Homo sapiens: one gene and its partners. The protein of the gene in region 4 purifies or fractionates together with the protein of the main gene of each other region. This does not show direct contact. Each region holds a gene or a part of one and is shown on either strand. Other genes may lie near its edges.

Region 1 (4,734 bases), about 110 Mb from region 4:
AGAGTGGCTGACAGCAGAGACACTGTCTGTCTCCCCTAACACAAGCAGATGTAACACAAACTCTCACACACACAACTTGGTGGTAAAGCACCAAGAACAGGGCCTTGTTTTTACATAGCACATGCATAAGAAATACTTGTGTTTCTCAACTCCGTGTGTCTCTGTGTGTGTGTGTGTGTGTGTGTGTGCGCACGCACATGCGTGTGCGTGTGTGTGTGGTGTCTGGGAGAGGAGCCTCAGGGTGGCTGTGCTATATTTTGCACCCCCTTCCTCCTCCTCCTGCCCCTGCACAGGTGGACTAAGCAATGAAGAGGGATTCTGTCCCCACTGGGTGGTGAATTTGCTGGAACTAAAGGGCTTCCTTGCCACCCCCCGACACACACACTGGCCACAGTGGGTCAGACACAGGCCCACATGCTATCTTTCTGTTTCCCAGGGAGAAGGATGGCATCCGGAAGGCCCGTGAGGTCCTGATGCGGTTGGGCCTGGACCCGACTCAGGAGGACTGCGTGGCCACTCACCGGATCTGCCAGATCGTGTCCACACGCTCCGCCAGCCTGTGCGCAGCCACCCTGGCCGCCGTGCTGCAGCGCATCAAGGAGAACAAAGGCGAGGAGCGGCTGCGCTCTACTATTGGGGTCGACGGTTCCGTCTACAAGAAACACCCCCAGTGAGTCAGTGTGCAGGGCCTGGAGATGCGGAGTTCCTGGAGTACCTGGGGCTGAGTGACTCCTCATGCCAGCTCCATTTTGCATTTCAGGGGTGGTGTGGAGGGACCATAGAGCTGAGGGTCTTGGTGGAATGAAAGTTCCCACCTGGGCAAGGGGGAATGGGAGGAAGTCATATCTGGTGTGGGTGGAGGTGATTTCTGAAGGCTACTGATGACTCGGGCTCTCCGCAGAGCTCCTCTGGCTGCTGGACACTCTCTTTGCCACCCTCTTGTATGCGTTATTGTTCCTGTCTTTACTCTTAGAATTCTTGGTGATTCCTGCAGGTGCTATGTCCTCTGCCAGGGACCACCCCAGCCCAGTGAGGGTTACCAGCTTCTCTGGCTGACCTTGGTATTAAATTGATCCTGCCCTGTCCACATTTTGATCCCTCAGGTCATAGGTACCAGAATATTCACATGTCAGCTGAGACCTGGAAGATGTCTCTTTATTGTGCCTACTTATTTCCCCATCATTTTCACCTAATAAGAATGCCAGGTCAATGTGCCTTTGTTTTCTTAACTTGTCGGTGCAGGAGGCCTCAGCCCTGAGATTCCCTCTTCCTACCCAGTGTTGCAAAAACTCGAGTGTGCACGTGAATCACATGGGGATCTTGCTAAGAGGCAGATTCTGATCAGAAGGTCTGGGGTGAGTCTGAGATCCCGCATCTCTAACAGCCCCCAGTAGGCTGCAGCCTACTCCTGCACTTGGAGTAGGAAGGCCCTGGAGACCATGGCTCCAAGTGGCCACTACCCAGAGAGTTCCTGGCTGAACACGTTGTCTTTAGCTGTGCAGACACCTTTGGGATCATTGGCAGAAACTGGCAAAAGAGAGGCTAAAGTCCAGAAGAGCATCTCTAGCTTTTAATTTTGGGTCTTTCCCAGACAGCAGCTAGTGAAATGAGTGATAGAACAAGACAGATAGGTGGCATCAGAACCACCTAATACCACAGGGCTGCTCCAGCAAAGAGGCTGATGGTACCATGTTGGGCAAGGGAGCAGTGGCCAGGGGGCCTTCTTCAGTGAGGAAGAGGAGGTCTTGTGTGGCTGCATGTAGGGGACAGTGGCTTATTAAAAGGTCTTTTCCTTTCATTGGCGGGGGTGAACCAATCCTGGGTGGTCATAGTTGATATGGTTCTTGTAGTGGTTCCTAACTTGGGACAGTGGAGAGAGGATGTTTAGGGCAGCACCCACTCCTGCAGGTGCCTTTTGGCATTTGGATTAAGGCGGTGGGCAACTGTCTAACTATTTGCACCATTGACCCTAACCATGGACACCTGTCTCTTACCCGCCCTGGGGAACTGCAGTTTTGCCAAGCGTCTACATAAGACCGTGCGGCGGCTGGTGCCCGGCTGCGATGTCCGCTTCCTCCGCTCCGAGGATGGCAGTGGCAAAGGTGCAGCCATGGTGACAGCAGTGGCTTACCGGCTGGCCGATCAACACCGTGCCCGCCAGAAGACATTAGAGCATCTGCAGCTGAGCCATGACCAGCTGCTGGAGGTCAAGAGGAGGATGAAGGTAGAAATGGAGCGAGGTCTGAGCAAGGAGACTCATGCCAGTGCCCCCGTCAAGATGCTGCCCACCTACGTGTGTGCTACCCCGGACGGCACAGGTACACGGCAGGGTTGCCACCTGGCTCACATGGTGGGCCTTTGTCCTGGTGTTGATACCCTGGGAGGGATCCCTTAGCATTAGCATTGGACATTTGAACCAGAACACGTTTCTTCAGCCGTATTACTAGGGAGTTCTAGTCTTTGATAAACTCAAACAAGGTGCTCCTCTGCAAACAGTAGTAATGGTCAACACTTATTGAATGCTTACTGTGTGTCAAAGCACTTTATGTGTATGAGCTCATTTAATCTTTGTTAACTGTTAAAAAATATTAGCAGTTAATTTTATGTATTCACCTATGTTTGACAGAAAACTGAGGCGCAGAGAAGTTAAGACACCTGCCTAAATTCACACAACTAGAAAATGTCGGAGCTGGGATTCAAACCCAGGAATTCAGGTTCTAGAATCTGCTCTTGCAATCACCACATTGGTCTGAGTCAGGGTTGGCAAACTATGGCCCATGGGCTGAATCTGGCCCACCACCTGTTTTTGTACATAAGGTTTTATTACACAGCCATGCCCATGCGTCTGCACGTTGCTTATGGTTGTTTTGCACTGTCTTGGCAAAGTTGAGTGGTGGCAGCAAAGACTGCATGACCCACAGGGCCTAAAACGTTTGCTGTCTGGGCCTTTACAGAAAAAGATTTCTGACCCCTGCTGTAAGTCTTGTAACCTCAGAAATGGTGGTCTTATTCCAATTCAGAGAAGACAGTCGATGAGCAGGCCAGTGTAGCACAGTTGTTACAGGTTCCAGAGACAGACTGGGATTTGGTCCCTGCTCTACCCTGTCCTGGTCGTATGGCCCCGGGCAAGTGATTTAACTATCAGCCAGATCCCAATCATCCTTAAGAGAGGAATGCAGTGTCTCCCTCACAGGGCTGCCTAAGGGTTGAACGAGGACTGTGTGTGAAGCATGTGGCACACTGTAATTGTCCAACAAGGGAGGGTTTTCTCAGTTTAAAAGATTTCCCTTCAGCTTCCTTCAGGGAGCTGGACTCTTCTGTTCCTTCTGTATTCTAGAATGTAATATAAAGTGGCATTTGATGGAACAGGAATGGTGTATTTGGATCGTTTTAAGTGTACTGTCTCCACATTCCCCATGTTCTGCCCCAACTTATCACTTCCCTGGGCTTATTTTCCAGAGAAAGGGGACTTCTTGGCCTTGGACCTTGGAGGAACAAATTTCCGGGTCCTGCTGGTCCGTGTTCGGAATGGGAAGTGGGGTGGAGTGGAGATGCACAACAAGATCTACGCCATCCCGCAGGAGGTCATGCACGGCACCGGGGACGAGGTGAGCAGGGCGGCGCCTTCAGGAGGGGGCCCCTGGTGGACGTCACCTCTTGCCTTCGAGGACAGTGCTTTCTCTGCTCATCTGTGACCCTGGGGAGGGCTAGCTGGACCCAGGGCTGCAGCCTGGTCTTGACTCAGGTTTGTGCCTGAGCCTGCATTTCTTCTGGGTGGAAAGAAACATTGATGTTGTGCGCAGGCCCTACTGGGGGCAGCCTGCCCTGCCCAGGGCCCCTCCCTCAGTGTCCTAACTTCTCCCTGCAGCTCTTTGACCACATTGTCCAGTGCATCGCGGACTTCCTCGAGTACATGGGCATGAAGGGCGTGTCCCTGCCTCTGGGTTTTACCTTCTCCTTCCCCTGCCAGCAGAACAGCCTGGACGAGGTAACAGCACCTTCCTGGAGGGCTCTCCTGTGGGCTTTATTGACTCTAAACAAAACCAGCCAGGTATGGAGCAGGGGAGAAAGTTGAGCTAAGACTAAGGAAAGGAGGGCGTGAGTTACCAGTAGTGGGGAGGGGCTCCTTGATGGGAATGAGTAAGTTGAGGCTGGTGGAGGTTAAGTAGGTTAGCTCAGCTGTGACAGCCTTTGGGACAACGATGATGATGCTACTCAATGTTAACAACTGCCGGGTGTGGTGACTCATACCTGTAATCTCAGCACTTTGGGAGGCTGAGGCAGGAGGATTACTTGAGGCCAGGATTTCAAGACTAGCCTAGGCAACATAGGAAGACCCCATCTCTATTGAACTTATATATATATATATAGCATTTTTAAGCACTTACTGTGTGCCAGGTACTATGTTAGGTTTCTTACCTGCATTATCTCGTTTAACCCTCACAGCAACCATATAAGAGATATGTTTGAATACCCATTCTACAGAAAGGAAGATAAGCCCCACAGAGGTGCTGGGTGTCTTGCTCCAGGTCATAATAGCTTGGGACTGGCCAAGCCAAGATTTGGATTCTGGGTTCCTGATGCCTGAGCCTGTGCTGTCAGTTATGCTGTGGGGCTCCTGAGGCCCTTGTTATGGGCTCAGGGCATTTTCATGCCATATCCTGTTGTTTGGATGCCCTGGCTCTTCTCTGGTCTCATCTTGCTTCTCACTCCTCTTCAGGTTACCTTGGGTGA
Region 2 (4,734 bases), on a different chromosome or scaffold from region 4:
TATTCACTTATAAAAGTCTACCAAAACCACCACTTGGCAAATATCACAGGCATAATTATTACTGGCAAAAACCATCCATGGATGTTAAAATTAATAAGTGAATGTATGACAAAAAAAAGAATATTTGGAAAGAATCTCCCCACAAGATACTTATTAATTACAAAGGAAAAACTACAACTTTACAAAGCAGAAAGCTGACAGCACTTTAACCAAGTGAACAAAGTTATCACCATCAATGTGACATAGCCGCAACACATGCCACCTGATATAATGCATTGAGAAGGGCATAGCATCACTTCTGTGGCATTGTCACCAAAAATGCATAACCTAAATTAAATCAGGAAACCTCACACATTGAGAGACATTATAGAAAATAGCTGTTCTGCAATCTTCAAAAGTGAGAAGGCCATGAAATACAAAGGACTAAATAAATGTTCCATACTTAAGAAGACTAAAAAGACATGACAACCAAATGCAATATGTGATTGGTCAGAAATAAAAATTAATGGGGCAACTGCTTTTGAAAATTCTATTAATATTATGGTTACCGAAGATGTTAGCAGCTGGGAAAGATGGATGAAGGATATAGGGGAACCCATCATACTACTTTTTCAATTGTTTAATAAGTCAAATTATTTCAAAATGAAAAGTTAAAAAAATTGAAAAAAGTATTTGAGAAAAAAAGAAAAGGCCTATATATCATGTTATACTTATTAGAATTTTTCCCTATTGGTGATCATGCAAGAAAGTTAGACCAATTAAGCACACAGAAGTCAGAAGAGAGATGGTTCAGTTTAAGCTAACCGTTTAAGTAATAGGGTTGAAGGTGGAAGCTAACACTTTTTCTACAAAAAATAAATTAATAAAAAAAGCACAAGGGACCATAAACCATTTCAATGCCCATTTAGTAACTACATTTGCTGTTCATTCTACTGAAAAAAACCCAACATACCTTCCACTCAGCAGAATATCTCATCACAATTGCTCGGCACTGATTGTTATACTCTGTAATCCCCATTTTGGCCACATCCTCTGGTCCTCTGATTCCCAGTGTCTTATCAATTTCATATTCCTGAAAATTTGTGATAAGACTGTTACCACGCTGCCCTATGAAAACAACTGCAACTATGCAACTCTAGAAAACAAAACAAATCAAACTACAAATATTATAGAAATGAACTAGAAGGTCTGACAGTCAACGTTCATCATACTTGAACATATTATATGACAAAATCTAATGCTTATAAAAAAAATCAGAAAATTATAAAGCTGGATACTCAAACATACCACAGGTAAGCCATGGCAATCCCATCCAAATCTTCTGTCAACATGAAACCCACTCTGGTGAGCATATCTTGTAACTATATCTTTAATTGTACCCGCAAGTATATGTCCATAGTGAGGCAGTCCAGTTGCAAAAGGAGGACCATCATAGAAGGTAAATCTAACAGGTAATAAAAATATATCAAGCCATTTAAAAACAGCCAAAATTTAAGGCATTTTTCTATAGATAGCTCTTGTCATAGTGGAGTCTTCAAGGAGAAAAGCAGCAAGATCAGGAAACCGACAGACATAATTGATTTGATATTTACTGGTGGTCCTGCCTTCAGAAAGGCTACAATTGTGGTAGAGCTACAGAGACCTCCATTTGATTATCCATTTTTCATTTATTAGTTCCATGACATAAGGCAAATTATTTATCCTGATCTTGAGTTATCTCATCAGTAAAATAGGGCAATAAACCCCTATCTCATAGTTTTTGACCAGAGGAGACATATAATGAAAACACTGATTAAAGGACTAGTCTTTTAGGTGAATGAGGACTAAAGGCAGGTAGTACTATAGTAGCCTTCTATGGGGTACTTAGGTATAAGTGCCTAAACGAGGGTGGTGATGAAAATAAAGGTGGAAAGAGGGTGACACGGAGGATGACACATAAATTTTACTCAGATGACCTTTTAAAGAAACAAAATTTACCCCAATAATTGAGAACTCATTCATTCAATGTATATCTACTACTGAGTACCCACTACATAGGGAGCTGGGGGATTCTGGGAATAGAAAGATTAATAAAGAGTATCTGCTTTAGGCCGCGCGTGATGGCTCACACTTGTAATCCCAGCACTTTGAGAGGCCGAGGTGGGTGGATCACTTGAGGTCAGGAGTCCGAGACCAGCCTGGGCAACATGGTGAAACCCCGTCTCTACTAAAACACAAGAATTAGCTGGTGTGATGGCGGGCACCTGTAATCCCAGCTACTCGGGAGGCTGAGGCAGGAGAATCACTTGCATCCGGGAGGCAGAGGTAGCAGTGAGCAGAGATTGCACCACTGCCCTCCAGCCTGGATGACAGTGCGAGACTCCATCTCAAAAAAAAAAAAAAAAAAAAAGTATCTGCTTTAATGGAATTCAGTCTAAGAAATGACTATTCTTAAGGGAACTTAACCTAAAAAATTCACATACTTTGGTTTATGTTTTGATTGCTTTAAGCATTCCTGAAAACAATTAAATTCAGTCCAAAACTCCAAGATTTTCTCTTCTTCAGCAGGAAAATTTATGTTTTCTGGAACTTGTTGAAGCATTTTGTTGCTGCAAAAGAAATCAAATTTATTACTGTCAAAAGAGAAATCTAGGAATAACAGAGTACCATATTATTAACATGGGTGTACATGACACTATCCATACTTTTAAAAAATTACAGCTTTATTGATGTACAATTTACATAGTGTAATGTAAAAAGTGTACAATTCAGTGGCTTTTTAGTATATTTACAAGGTAGTATAACTAGTAATACCTAATTTCAAAACGTTTTCAACCTCCCCTCCCCACCAAAACACCCCAAAACCATTAGCAGTCACTCCCCATTCTTTCTTCTCCATAGCCAGTGGCAACGATTTATCTTCTTTCTGTCCCTGCAGATTTACCTATTCTGGACATTTCATATAAATGGGAAAATTTATAGGAATCATCTATATGTGGCCTATTGCATCTGGTTTCCTTTCTCTAGCATGTTTTCAAGGCTCATCCATGATGTAATATGTATTCATACTTCATTACTTTTGATAGCTGAATAGTATTCCATTTCATGAATATGCCACATTTTGTTTATCCATTCATCATTTCTTGGATACCTGTATTGTTTCCACTTTTTGGTTATTACGAATAACGCTGCTATGAACATTCACATACAAAATTTTGTGTGGATCTATGTTTTCATTTCTCTTGGGTTTGTAGCTAGAAGTAGAATTTCTGGGTCACATGATAATTCTGTATTTAACTTTTTGAGAAAATGCCAAAATTTTTCCAAAGTGACTGTACTATTTTACATTCCCTCAGCAGTGAATGAGGATTCTAATTTCTTCAGATCTTACCCAACACATCTTATTGTCCATCTTTGAATTACAGTCATTCTAGGAGATGTTAAGTAGTATCTTGTGGTTTTGATTTGCATTTCCCTAAGGACTAATGATGCTGAGCATCTTTCCACATGCTTATTGGCCATTTGCGTATCCACGTTGGATAGATATTTATCCTTTGCCTATTTTCTAATTGGGCTCTTTTTGTGGTTGGGTTTTAAGGGTTATGTATACATCCTGGATACAAATCCTTTATCAGATATATGATTTATAAAAAATTTCTCCTGTTCTGTGGGCCGTCTTTTTATTTTCTTGATGGCATTTTTTGAAGCACAAAGATTTTTCATTTTAATGATGCCCAATTTGTCAATTTTTGGTTTTGCTGCTTGAGCTTTTGGTGTCATCAATAAACCATTACCTAAACAAGGTTATAGATTTTTCGCTTACATTTAGGCCACAAATAATTTTATTTTCGTATATGGTGTGAGGGAGGGGTACATGGCTATTATTTAATATTCAGTAATGGTAGAGACAATGTTTCCAAAAGTAAGCAGGAAAATCTTGGAAATTCTATCTAGTGGTGCAAAAAACTCATTAATAATCTGAAGAAAAATATCTCAAAGTAGTTAAGAATTTTCTTACCTACACTCACATGACAGAAATCAGTTCTCTTGAAGTAACTTCATCTTCTCTTTGAGGAAAACTGGTAAAACTTAAAAAATCTTAAAGCTAAAAAGATGAGAATCTCACATTCAAATATAGATTCCAGTTTTCCATTTTACCCTTTTTATTGCTTATTCATGATTTTTATGAAGGATGAGCCCTATACCTTTCTGGTTTAGTCCCTAATGAGAGAAGTCTTAAAGTGTCTTTTTAAATGTTTTGCTAATAACCTCATGCAGAGATACTTGATCAATCTATGACTTAAGTATCTAGTGAGCCACCCTTGAGACCTTTCCTTCTCAAAGTCTATTTATATTTACTTAACAATTCTAACAAGGTGGGTGACGAGCTTTCCAAGTCAGTATCAGATCAGAAGGGGATAAAATTGCTAATAAGGGAACAACAGAGAAGATAAAAAATCTTAAGTACTCAAGAACCACAACAGACCAGGGTAATCAACTCTACAGGAAAAGACACCTACATACCTCAAACAGTTTTGAAAGCATCAAAAGCATCATAGTCTAATCAAGTTATTGATTCAAGTTATCATTTAAAAAAAAGTCTGTGACAAGTAGTATCTTTCATTTTCTTTTACCCTCATTAATTTTTCAGATGTGTGAGTGCCTCTGAGTTTAATTTAAGAAAAAACAGGACAAGAACAGTTGGGCTGTTTAACTAACTGAAATAGCTATTTCTGATCACAGTATGCCATTAAA
Region 3 (4,734 bases), on a different chromosome or scaffold from region 4:
TTCATGGACAAAGCTGAGGCTCAGGAGATGTTTGTTGTGGCAATAATAGAATTATAGTGTTCAAGGCCAAAAATATTAACAATAAAGGCCAAGGATATCACTTACTACCAAACAGGCATTAGTAATCACCATGAACTTTATGGCATTTGAATAATATTTTCACTCTCCTATTTATCTGTCCCTTGTAAATTACCTTCATAGATGAACTATCATGAATTTAATATGTATTATTCACAGTAACTTGAGACAACAGGAACAACCAAAATATTTTCATCTTGCTTATTTTGCTATAGACAAAAACGTATTTGAAAGTTCTTCCCGTGATGTTATATATTTTTATCTCCCAGTTTCTTTGATGTGCATTGACCATTGAAATCACGGCGAATATATACTGTGTACGTATGTAATAGGGGCAAATCACAGACACTTTATTGTGATTGCAGCTTTTAGAAGAGAAGAATATCCTTGCAGAACAACTACAAGCAGAGACTGAGCTCTTTGCTGAAGCAGAAGAGATGAGGGCAAGACTTGCTGCTAAAAAGCAGGAATTAGAAGAGATTCTACATGACTTGGAGTCTAGGGTTGAAGAAGAAGAAGAAAGAAACCAAATCCTCCAAAATGAAAAGAAAAAAATGCAAGCACATATTCAGGTATGTATAATAATTTTTACTTAGAAGCATATTTTGGATTTTCAAGTGGATCTGTTGAATAAACAGAAGTTATGTGTTTGGATTCTTAAGTCCACAGAGAAGCAAAAGGGTTCTGGGTTATGAGAAGCCACTCTTAGAAAGATGACCATCATTTGAAACACACCTATAATAGATTTTCTTTGAACAAAGATTTGTCATTTTGTATAGGAATCTTTTTTATGTTCTAAGTGGCATCTTACAGTTTGCAAAGAGATTCACAGTCGCAAACCTCCCAGGATCTATAGCATTCTGTAGAAGACCTAACTTGTTCTTCATGTTGTCAGTGATTCTGTTGCTCACTCCATTCATTAGATAGACATCTACTACGTGGTTTGGCTAATAAGAAACGCTCAGCACTGACATAGGAGGTGGCCAACAGTCAGAATGAGAATTTTTAAAAATTAGCCCTTCCCTGGTACTTAACTTTCTTTTTGAAATACAGGCTGTACTCATGAGGCACAATTTTTGGATTGTGATTGAAACAGACAAATGTGCTTTTTAAATGGTCTTTATATTTTAGAGGTACAGCCTGAAGGTTTTACAAGTGAAATATGATGTCTGGGATTTGCTTCAAAATAACCTAGGGGGAGAAGGGAGCAGGTGGAGGCACACATGAAATGGAATTGACCATGAGTTGATGCTTGTTAAGGTCAAGGTGATGCTTCTGTGTGGGGCTTATTATGCTGGTCTGTGTGCTTGTATGTGTGTTTGAAATTTTTACAAGAAAACACTCATTTTTTGCCATGGTTTCATTCTAAAATTAACGATGAGTAAATTATTTAGCCGAAGTTACTCTTGAACATTTCCTTAAGTTGGCCATGTGTTGATTTGTACAACCCTAGTTTTGGTTTTTTGGGGTTTGTTTTTGTTTTTGTTTTTTTGTTCTGTTTTTGAGACGGAGTCTCGCTTTGTTGCCCAGGCTGGAGTGCAATGGCGCAATCTCGGCTCACTGCAACCTCCACCTCCTCGGTTCAAGTGATTCCCTTGCCTCAGCCTCCCCAGTAGCTGGGATTACAGGCGCCTGCTACCACGCCCAGCTAATTTTTGTATTTTTAGTAGAGACGAGGTTTCACCACGTTGGCCAGGCTGGTCTCGAACTCTTGACCTCAGGTGATCCACCCACCTCGGCCTCCCAAAGTGCTAGGACTACAGGCGTGAGCCACTGCGCCCAGCCTGGGTTTTGTTTTGTTTAACTTTTTTTTTAATTTCGTTTTTTGGAGGGGATGGGAGCTTTCCACCAGAAACCAGAAATCCTGCTAGACAAATTCTAAAAGAGCTGTAACACTTTGTTTTTAATTTTAATTTTTATGCGTATATATTAAGTGTGTGTGTGTGTATGTATGTATGTGTGTATATATATATATATATATATATATATATATATATATATATATATGGGGTACATGAGATGTTTTGATACAGGCATGTAGTGTGTAATAATCACCTCATATAAAATGGGGTAATCTATCTGTGATCCTGTGTAATAGCATGTTTATCATAAACAGTAATGTAGATTATAAAGATCTGCACGTTCTAATAAAAATACATGTAAACTCTATGCTCCCGCCCAGTTTGATGAGGTGCTTCTGCTGTGAAAGGTACACTTGAACTGAGACAGCTCATTTCTCACGACCTGTACTATTTAAATTATTGTTTTCATGTTCTCTTTCTCTCTTCTTTGGCCGAACATGTATATAGTTGGATTCAGCTAAATTAAATACACATTTGATGAGTGCTACTACATTATTCATGTTTGTCTGTGTTGCTATTATTCCAAAATGTGAATTTTAATTACTATATATTATTCCATTTAACAAATGTGCCAACATTTAATTACCAAGACCTTTTTGTAGCATGTTCATAGTTACTCAATATTATAAATAACTTATCACTGTATGTCTTTTTATATAAATTGCATCTGTGACAATTTCCTGAAATTGCTGGTTGAAAGGAAAGGCTCATTTTTAAAGCTATGTTTTGCCATGTTGGCTTCTAGAAGGATTGACCCAGTTTGTACTTTAGCCTGTAGCGGATACAAATGTCTATTTCACATAACTGCATTTCATATTTTTTTAAATATCCTTGGCATTTTGAGAATCAAAAATTAGTATCTAGGCTGAGGCGGATGGATCATGAGGTCAGGAGATCAAGACCATCCTGGCTAACATGGTGAAACCCCATCTCTACCAAAAAAAAAATCAAAAAATTAGCCGGGCGTGGTGGCGGGCACCTGTAGTCCCAGCTACTCGGGAGGCTGAGGCAGGAGAATGGCGTGAACCCAGGAGGTGGAGGTTGCAGCGAGCCGAGGTGGCACCACTGCACTTCAGCCTGGGCAACAGAGCGAGACTCCGTGTCAAAAAAAAAAAAAAAATTAGTATCTCATTGTAATGCATTCCTGTGCACAATGAATGTGTGGTCAAATCTCGAGAAAGTGGCGAGACTGACTGTGTGTTCTTCACAAGGACCTGGAAGAACAGCTAGACGAGGAGGAAGGGGCTCGGCAAAAGCTGCAGCTGGAAAAGGTGACAGCAGAGGCCAAGATCAAGAAGATGGAAGAGGAGATTCTGCTTCTCGAGGACCAAAATTCCAAGTTCATCAAAGTAAGAGAGTGTTCCCACAAAAAGCTGATTTTAGTTACAGAAAATATTTATATAATATTATGTTGATACACTCATTGAAAGTGAACTCAAACAGAAATTTCTCAAGATTTTAGGTTCATTTACTGAATTTTCTCTGTAAGTCTCTACTTGTATAGATTTCTAAAGATACAGGCACCATTGAATTTTTTAAACCTTATCAAATATCCTGATAATCTTTTAGACTTGTAACATGTGCAGTTTGTGCATAATGGTCACTCAATGATGACTTGTCTCCATCTGTGCAAGCATTAATTCATCCACCATTGACTGTGGGACTCTGAATACCAGGCAGCTGGGCCAAGCTCCCGGGGTGGGCACCAAGACGTGTAAGCCTTTCTGCCCTTTTGGAGTACAGTCGTGTGTTGTTTAACGATGAGGACACATTCTGGGAAATGCATTGTGAAGTTATTTTATCCTCGTACAAACATCATAGAGTGTATGGACACAAACTAGATGGTAGAGCCTGCTATACACCTAGACCAGACGCTGGGCTGATTGCATCTAGGCCACACACTTGTACAGCATGTTACTGTCCTGAATACTGTAGGCAGTTGGAACACAGTGCTAATAAGTACTTGTGTATCTAAACATATCCACACAAAAGTCCAGTAAAAATATGATAGAAAAGGTACGGTAAAAATGATAGAAAAGATTTAAAATGGCACACCTCTATTGGGCACTCACCATGAACGGAGCTTGCAGGACTGGAAGCTGCTCTGGGTGAGTCAGTGAGTGAGCGCTGAGTGAATGTGAAGGCCTAGGACATTGCTGTACATGACTGCAGACTTTATCAACATGGCACACTGAGGCTGCAGTACATTTATTTTAAAAATAGAGTAATTGCACTGTGGTGTTATGACAGCTCTCGATGAAGTTTTCAGCTCCATGATCATCTTAGGAGACCACTGTCGTGTATCCGGTTCATCATTGTCCAAAACATCGTTCTGCAGCATGTGATTGTGTACAGTCTGCTGGGGGAGGCAGTGCCGATAGAACTTATTTTCTCTCGAGTCAAAGTTGACCTTTATGAGGAATACAGAACCCAAGTGGTCATTCTGAATGGCTTTTCTGAAGCAGTCAATTTTTCCTGTCCAGGAAAAGAAACTCATGGAAGATCGCATTGCTGAGTGTTCCTCTCAGCTGGCTGAAGAGGAAGAAAAGGCGAAAAACTTGGCCAAAATCAGGAATAAGCAAGAAGTGATGATCTCAGATTTAGAAGGTTAGTATTTGGGGCTAGAGAAATCAGGGACTAGGACATGTGAGTGTTTAGCTTTTACTGTAATCAGAACATGCAAAAATAAAAAATATACATGATGATTACTAATAATAAGGACCTTCAGTTTGGGTTGACTTATTAAAATAGGTCCCTTGGCTGGGCACGGTGTCTCAGGCCTGTAATCCTAGCA
Region 4 (5,842 bases):
TCTTGGTGCTGGCTCTGCAGTCAACTTGCTTGACTAAAAGGGGTATCTCATGCCTAACGTCTCTCACCCTGGGCATTCTAGATAAACAGGCAGGCTCACTTCTGCTTATGGCATGAATATACCATATGGGACACCTTGTCCACAGAGGGTAGGGTAGGCGAGATATGGACCTTCTCTTTTGAGGGGAGGAGTCTATCTGAATCAACCACTGATCTGAAATTCTACAGAGACTCAAAGACTAGTCCATGTGGATATTTTTAATTGTGTGGGAGATGGGCACCATTTGAAGACCCTACACCTTCAGGTTCTTGATAGCAAGTAAAGCTATTCCAAAGGAAAGAAGATACCTTACTGACATGGCAATCACAGATCGATCTTTAATCATTATAACATTTTTTTCTTCAGCCAACAAAAATTTCTCATTGTGTTTCATTTCAACTTCTACCTTTTAATGTATTACCTTTTAATTTTTAAACTTTTGGTTCAGTTTATCAATTGTCCCTATTAACCTCAGCCTGCTTGTTACAGATAACATACAGATAATAGATTTAAGTAAACAATAAAGAAGAACCACTATTTTTTGAATGTATTATGTGTCAGTACTGAGCTAAGCATTTTTGAAACATTAGAGTCACCCACATTTGAAACAGGACAACTGAAGCTATTTTATACAGAAGATTCACACACACACACACACACACACACACACACACACACTCTTCTACAGAAGATGGCTTATATATATTTACACACACTCTTGAAACTTCTTCATACAAAATAGTGCATAGCCCACAAACCTAAGAATCCTAAATTATCTTTATTACCAATGTATTGTTTTTAGTGTTTTATTTCTAGACTGTAGCCTCAATCCCTATTTTATAGCTTCAAGCTACCACTGAATTTATTCTGAATAGAGAGGCAGTTTCTTTACATGAGGAATAAAAGATATCTGTATTCTTTAGAATGTTACATGAGAAATAACTTCAGTCAACTCTTCGGCAAATACTCAAGGCATTACTATCACTATTAATGTTTTAACTCATTGACTGACTAGGAATCTTGCCTTTTTTCCTTTCATCCCAGTAAATACCTTGTAGATTGGCCAAAATTTTGAAAGTTAAAAATCAGTTTGGCTCATCATTTCTAATCAATTATCTTACTCATCAGTCAGGTTGATAAATTTTCACTCCACTTTTATTCATTCATCCATCCAAAAGATCTTCATTTAATTCATATCTATGACATATCTACTATGTTTACATTTCTCTGAGAACAGTCAACTCCCATGCTACACATGCCCAAACAATTTTTTCCTTCCATTGACAGGCATTATCTTAAATTTAATACAGTATTATGTCATGATTTATCCAGTTAAACACAGACATCCAGAAATAGATTCAGTGTCCATCCAGACAGGAAGTAGGCACTAAATATCAGTAGTTATAATGTCATGGATCAGGAAACTATGACAGGACAACAGAAATAAAATTGCTCCCTCCTGAGACCTTGCCAAGATCCTCTGGCAGACCAAAGTTGTCGGCTCCACTCCCTAATTCTTCACCCACAACTCTCTCATGCAATGAAAATTATGCTTTGCAAAATCATTCCAAAATGTATGGGTCTGTGAATGTTTTATGCATTCCTACTGTGATTTCTGGTATTGAGGATGCTTAACAAGAGGCTAGGGCTTATTCTACATGCTACAGACAACTCGTAGACTTTTATAGGTGCTCTGAGTTAAAAGTAAAAATTCCATTATGTTTATACTCTATCTGAATTCATCTGAATGAAGGGAACCAGCTTCACAGTTTGAAAAAGAGCAAAGACTACTATAAAATACAAAAGAAGTTAAAGATCCAATAACTAATCTCAAAAGTCCATTTATAGCAAAGAAATATAAAGAAGTACCAATTTTATTCACCGTTTACAGATGACCCATCAGCTCAGCAGACAACATATTAAACCATTCACTTAATTTTATTTGCATTGAAGATACATACATGGAAGAAAATGGCTTAGACTTTGGACGCATTCAGACCCTAGTTTGACTTTAGTTCCCACCTATCAGTCACTAGCTAAGTAACTTTTAAAAAGGTATTTGCAACTCTGAGCCACAGTCCTCATACATAAACTAGGAACAATGTCAACCATGACCCAGGGTTGCTTTAAGGGGAAAAAAGTTAAGCAATATATATAGCAGTAACACTTTGGAACAAGATAGGTCTTGTTATTTAATATTCCTTCCTCTTTCCCCACTTGCCTGTGTGCAACAAACTTGTCTTTGGCTTTGAAACATGAAACTTCTCCCCTCTATCAGTACACATTTTTCAACTTGTCACAAATCTGAGACATTGAGAAATGACTGCAAAAAGATGGACCCATATAACATGAGTTTTGGATGACGGTTTTGGGAATGGAAAATTATACTACATTAACGATGAAGATGCCAATTTTCCTTTTCTTTTAGATTGTATATTGTAAGTAAAACTATCACTTTTTTTTTTAGGCCTTTAGGTTAAACGACGGGATATGGGATCAATTCCAATTGCTATTCCTGATATGCTCCTTAGCCTGTTCTTTAAGAGGGTTGATAGGTCAAAGATGGAAATAAAATTCTCAAGTCTTGGCTTAGCTGGATCCTGTCCTTAATACGCTGAGAGAGTCTAAAATGTGCTTTACACACGGAGAGACGGGGAGAGATGAAGAGAAGGTATCATAAGAAATTTCTCTAGCATAGTTGTCAGAGTACTGCAATCATTGCCATAAGGAAAAGGGAGAACGATATTAACAGAAAGGGAATCCCTTTTATATTAAGGAGGCAAGATGAGATGGAGTTGAAACTGAAAACTTTATGCTCTTTAAACCAGAAGTAACAGGCAACGTGAATCTTTCCAGGACTTGCCCTATGGTGGGGTCCACATGGGGGGTCGGGAGGTCACTAACTCCTGGTCCCATACCCAACTCACCCAGCTGGAGCTGTTCGCACGTCTGGCCGGGATTCTTTCCGATCCTGCATCTGTAAATCGCCCCGGGATTGATCACTGAAGCGTTGGCGAGCCAGTTGGCAGTGGGCGCACCCACTAGGAGCCTAAAGCGAGACACGTGCACGTGCGCTCAGACGTGAGCTGTGCTGCCCACTGAGCTCCCTGTCGCCACAGATGTGCAGTCCGCAGCAGGGCAGCTTCCCCACCTCCTCCTCCGCCCACCACCCCCGACTCGAAGCTCCAAGACCTTGCACCATAACGCACCCGGGGCGCTGCCGCCCCAAGATAAGTTAGTTTCCCTGGCAGATTTCCAGCGAGCTGGCTCTCGCAGCGTTTCCCTCCTGCCTCCTTGGGAGGGAGGAAAGTTTGAATCGGGCAGGGAATCCCTAGGGCGCCATTCTCACGCCGCTCTGAGCTGCTGAGGGCGCATCAGTCCAACTCTACTCACCATCGGTTCGCCCCGTGGCTGTGCAGCACGACCGAGTAGCCGAACAGCGTGTTGTGGGGGCCCTGGTAAAGCAGCGCGCTCTCAGTGTCCACGTTGTAGGGGCGGCCGGTCGGGACCCCCAGGCACAGCAACAGCATCACCGTCTCCCGGACGGCGGCCCTTCGGGGGCCGGGTTCGCGCCTCGCTTCCCAAGCCATGCGCTCTCGGTGGGGAACATTCAACACTAAACGGCCACTACCCCAAAGTTGCACGGGATGCGACGGTTGGCCAACGGGGAAGAACGCCCCAAGAGATGAGGCGCAGCGTGTCCGGCGCCAGCGGGCTAAAGGAAGGAGAGAGGGAAGAGGAGGGGAAGTCGGCCCACCGCGGGCGGAGCGTTCGGGCCGGCCTGGGATGCCGCGCACTCGCCCGGCCCCACTCCCGGTTTCTGCCGCCAGCCGGGAGCTTCGGGTGCTCGCGCTGCTTCTCCGGGTACGGGCCGCTGGGTGGGGTCCCGGGCGTGGTGCGGAGGCGCAGGGCCGGGCTCCGTCTCTGCCTACGCGCGGCTGCAGGGGGCGCTGGGGAACCTCGGCTGCGCAGGACTCGCGTCCTGGCCCGGGCCTCCCAGCCCGCAGAGCGCGGGATGGCTCTGGGCTCAGCAAGAGCGGACCTGATGGGGCACGGGCTTCCCCTTTTAACGGTGGTTGGGGCCTAGAAGCGGAGCTGTGTGACCCCAAACTGCGCGCCCCTCGCTGTGACCGCCCAGCCCGGCGTGGCCCAAATGCCAGCCACAAACTCGGGGAGTGGGACTGCGGCGGGGAGCCGTCCAGTTCTTTCGTTGATAGTTAAACACTGTGTCTTGTTTTTCAGGTGTAGGCAACCACTAGATAAATTATCAAGAGCCACAGATTAAAAACAAAAAACCAAACAAAAAGACTCGCCGAAGGCCCCTGGGGAACATTTTAGTGACAAAGACGTTATGGCTATTCTCTTCAAGACCCACATCTCAGCACCCTTCTATACCCACTTCCTTCCTCCCCACACTTCCTCTGCAGCCCGGGCTGCATGCGTGAGCAGGCTAGCAGCAGCCTCTCAGGCTGAACGGCAGGCGGTTTAGGCTGTGGCTGACCCCAACAGAGAGGTTGGGTTAAGGAAGCACTGTGACTTGATTCACTTTAACCGATTCGGATTGCTCCAGCTGGTAATTGATGATCCCCCCTTTTCACGCACCCACTCAGTTGCCACGGGACACACCTGCTTTTAGGGGTGTAAACCCCAGTGTGGGGTCAGGGTCCTAATGAGCCTCTGAAATGTGCCGGAGACCCACAACGCAACACACCTGAACTGGGTAGTGAGTCTCATTCTAATGCAATCCAGGTGTGCCCTGCCTTTTTTTTTTTTTTCCTTCAGCAACCAGAGAGACAGCCATAGGTGATTATTAGACTGATATTTTCAGGAGATGAAAGTCTAGTTTTTTATTGTTGCTATATGTAAAAAGAAAAGAAAAGTCTGCATCAAAGAGTGTGTCTGTGTGCTAAAACCATGCTGGAATAAATAACACATCTGACACTAATGACAGATACACAATTAAAATGCTTATTCATTTATTCAGCACATTCATGGAGCAGGCACTTGACTAGGACCACAGGATTCCACCAAGAGTAAGGCAGGACTGATACAAAGTTTCAAAAAATGTTCGCTCCAATGGTAGATAGAAAAATTTGTACTAACTAGAGAAAGATCCAGGTAAGGACACTTAAAGAGAGATTTGAAGGACCAGGAATCTTGAATCAGGCTAAGAATGGGATGAGCAATAAGGAGGGCTCCAGAGGAGCCAGGTAGAAGAACTGAGAGAGCTTGCCTGGCTAGAGTATTTAGCCACTCCACACACAGGTTGGTGTGATATGAGGCTGACTTAGGGAAGCAGGAATACATGGTGAACCTCATGAGCCAGGTTAGGAATTTTAAATCTATGTTGGGACTGACAGGAAGTTGAAGAATTTGTCTCGGTCAGCTCTGGGTTTCAGAAGTGTGAATGCAAGACTGAACACAGAAAACCTAATTTTGGAAGCCCCTGCAGCAATAAGTAGAGATAGGATAATCCCAAGGGGAAGTATTTCTCTTTCTTGAAAGAGAATGGTGCTACCATTCATGGAGAAAAAAACACTGAGAAATGAAGTTATATGCATGTATGTGTGCATGCAGATGGGGGCATGGATGGGTTAAGTTTTAGCCATGTGGAGTTTGAGATGTTTATGGAATGACAGGATATTCTAGCCAAACTCAATGCAATTATTTTCAGTCTGTCAACAGACAAAACATGAGGAATATTAACTTTCTCTTACTCTATACTGGAAAAAGTCAATACAGTGTGTGATAAATCTATTGTAAAAATGAAATGGCTTCCAGAAAGCTAACAATCAGGGCCCAT

The links. Proteins that work in one complex are often made in the same cells at the same time.
Region 1: the proteins of ITGA4 (region 4) and HK2 purify together in Homo sapiens (affinity purification with mass spectrometry, with the first as the bait; one large-scale study listed by BioGRID). This does not show direct contact.
Region 2: the proteins of ITGA4 (region 4) and IARS1 purify together in Homo sapiens (affinity purification with mass spectrometry, with the first as the bait; one study listed by BioGRID). This does not show direct contact.
Region 3: the proteins of ITGA4 (region 4) and MYH10 purify together in Homo sapiens (affinity purification with mass spectrometry, with the first as the bait; one large-scale study listed by BioGRID). This does not show direct contact.

What each region holds. Positions count from the first base shown.
Region 1 is NC_000002.12:74,878,252-74,882,985, forward strand, and holds part of HK2 (hexokinase-2), read left to right. Parts: intron 1-436; coding exon 437-670; intron 671-2,013; coding exon 2,014-2,318; intron 2,319-3,459; coding exon 3,460-3,608; intron 3,609-3,868; coding exon 3,869-3,988; coding exon of another isoform or gene 3,989-4,051; intron 4,052-4,734. UniProt on the Homo sapiens protein: Catalyzes the phosphorylation of hexose, such as D-glucose and D-fructose, to hexose 6-phosphate (D-glucose 6-phosphate and D-fructose 6-phosphate, respectively).
Region 2 is NC_000009.12:92,286,839-92,291,572, forward strand, and holds part of IARS1 (isoleucine--tRNA ligase, cytoplasmic), read right to left. Parts: intron 4,085-4,734; exon of another isoform or gene 3,998-4,084; intron 2,589-3,997; 5' UTR 2,582-2,588; coding exon 2,463-2,581; intron 1,445-2,462; coding exon 1,288-1,444; intron 1,136-1,287; coding exon of another isoform or gene 1,073-1,135; coding exon 953-1,072; intron 1-952. UniProt on the Homo sapiens protein: Catalyzes the specific attachment of an amino acid to its cognate tRNA in a 2 step reaction: the amino acid (AA) is first activated by ATP to form AA-AMP and then transferred to the acceptor end of the tRNA.
Region 3 is NC_000017.11:8,508,367-8,513,100, reverse strand, and holds part of MYH10 (myosin-10), read left to right. Parts: intron 1-443; coding exon 444-650; intron 651-1,915; exon of another isoform or gene 1,916-1,975; intron 1,976-3,151; coding exon 3,152-3,289; intron 3,290-4,012; exon of another isoform or gene 4,013-4,350; intron 4,351-4,423; coding exon 4,424-4,547; intron 4,548-4,734. UniProt on the Homo sapiens protein: Cellular myosin that appears to play a role in cytokinesis, cell shape, and specialized functions such as secretion and capping. Involved with LARP6 in the stabilization of type I collagen mRNAs for CO1A1 and CO1A2.
Region 4 is NC_000002.12:181,455,442-181,461,283, reverse strand, and holds the start of ITGA4 (integrin alpha-4 isoform 1 preproprotein), read right to left. Parts: upstream 3,899-5,842; 5' UTR 3,630-3,898; coding exon 3,433-3,629; intron 3,089-3,432; coding exon 2,967-3,088; intron 1-2,966. UniProt on the Homo sapiens protein: Integrins alpha-4/beta-1 (VLA-4) and alpha-4/beta-7 are receptors for fibronectin. They recognize one or more domains within the alternatively spliced CS-1 and CS-5 regions of fibronectin. They are also receptors for VCAM1.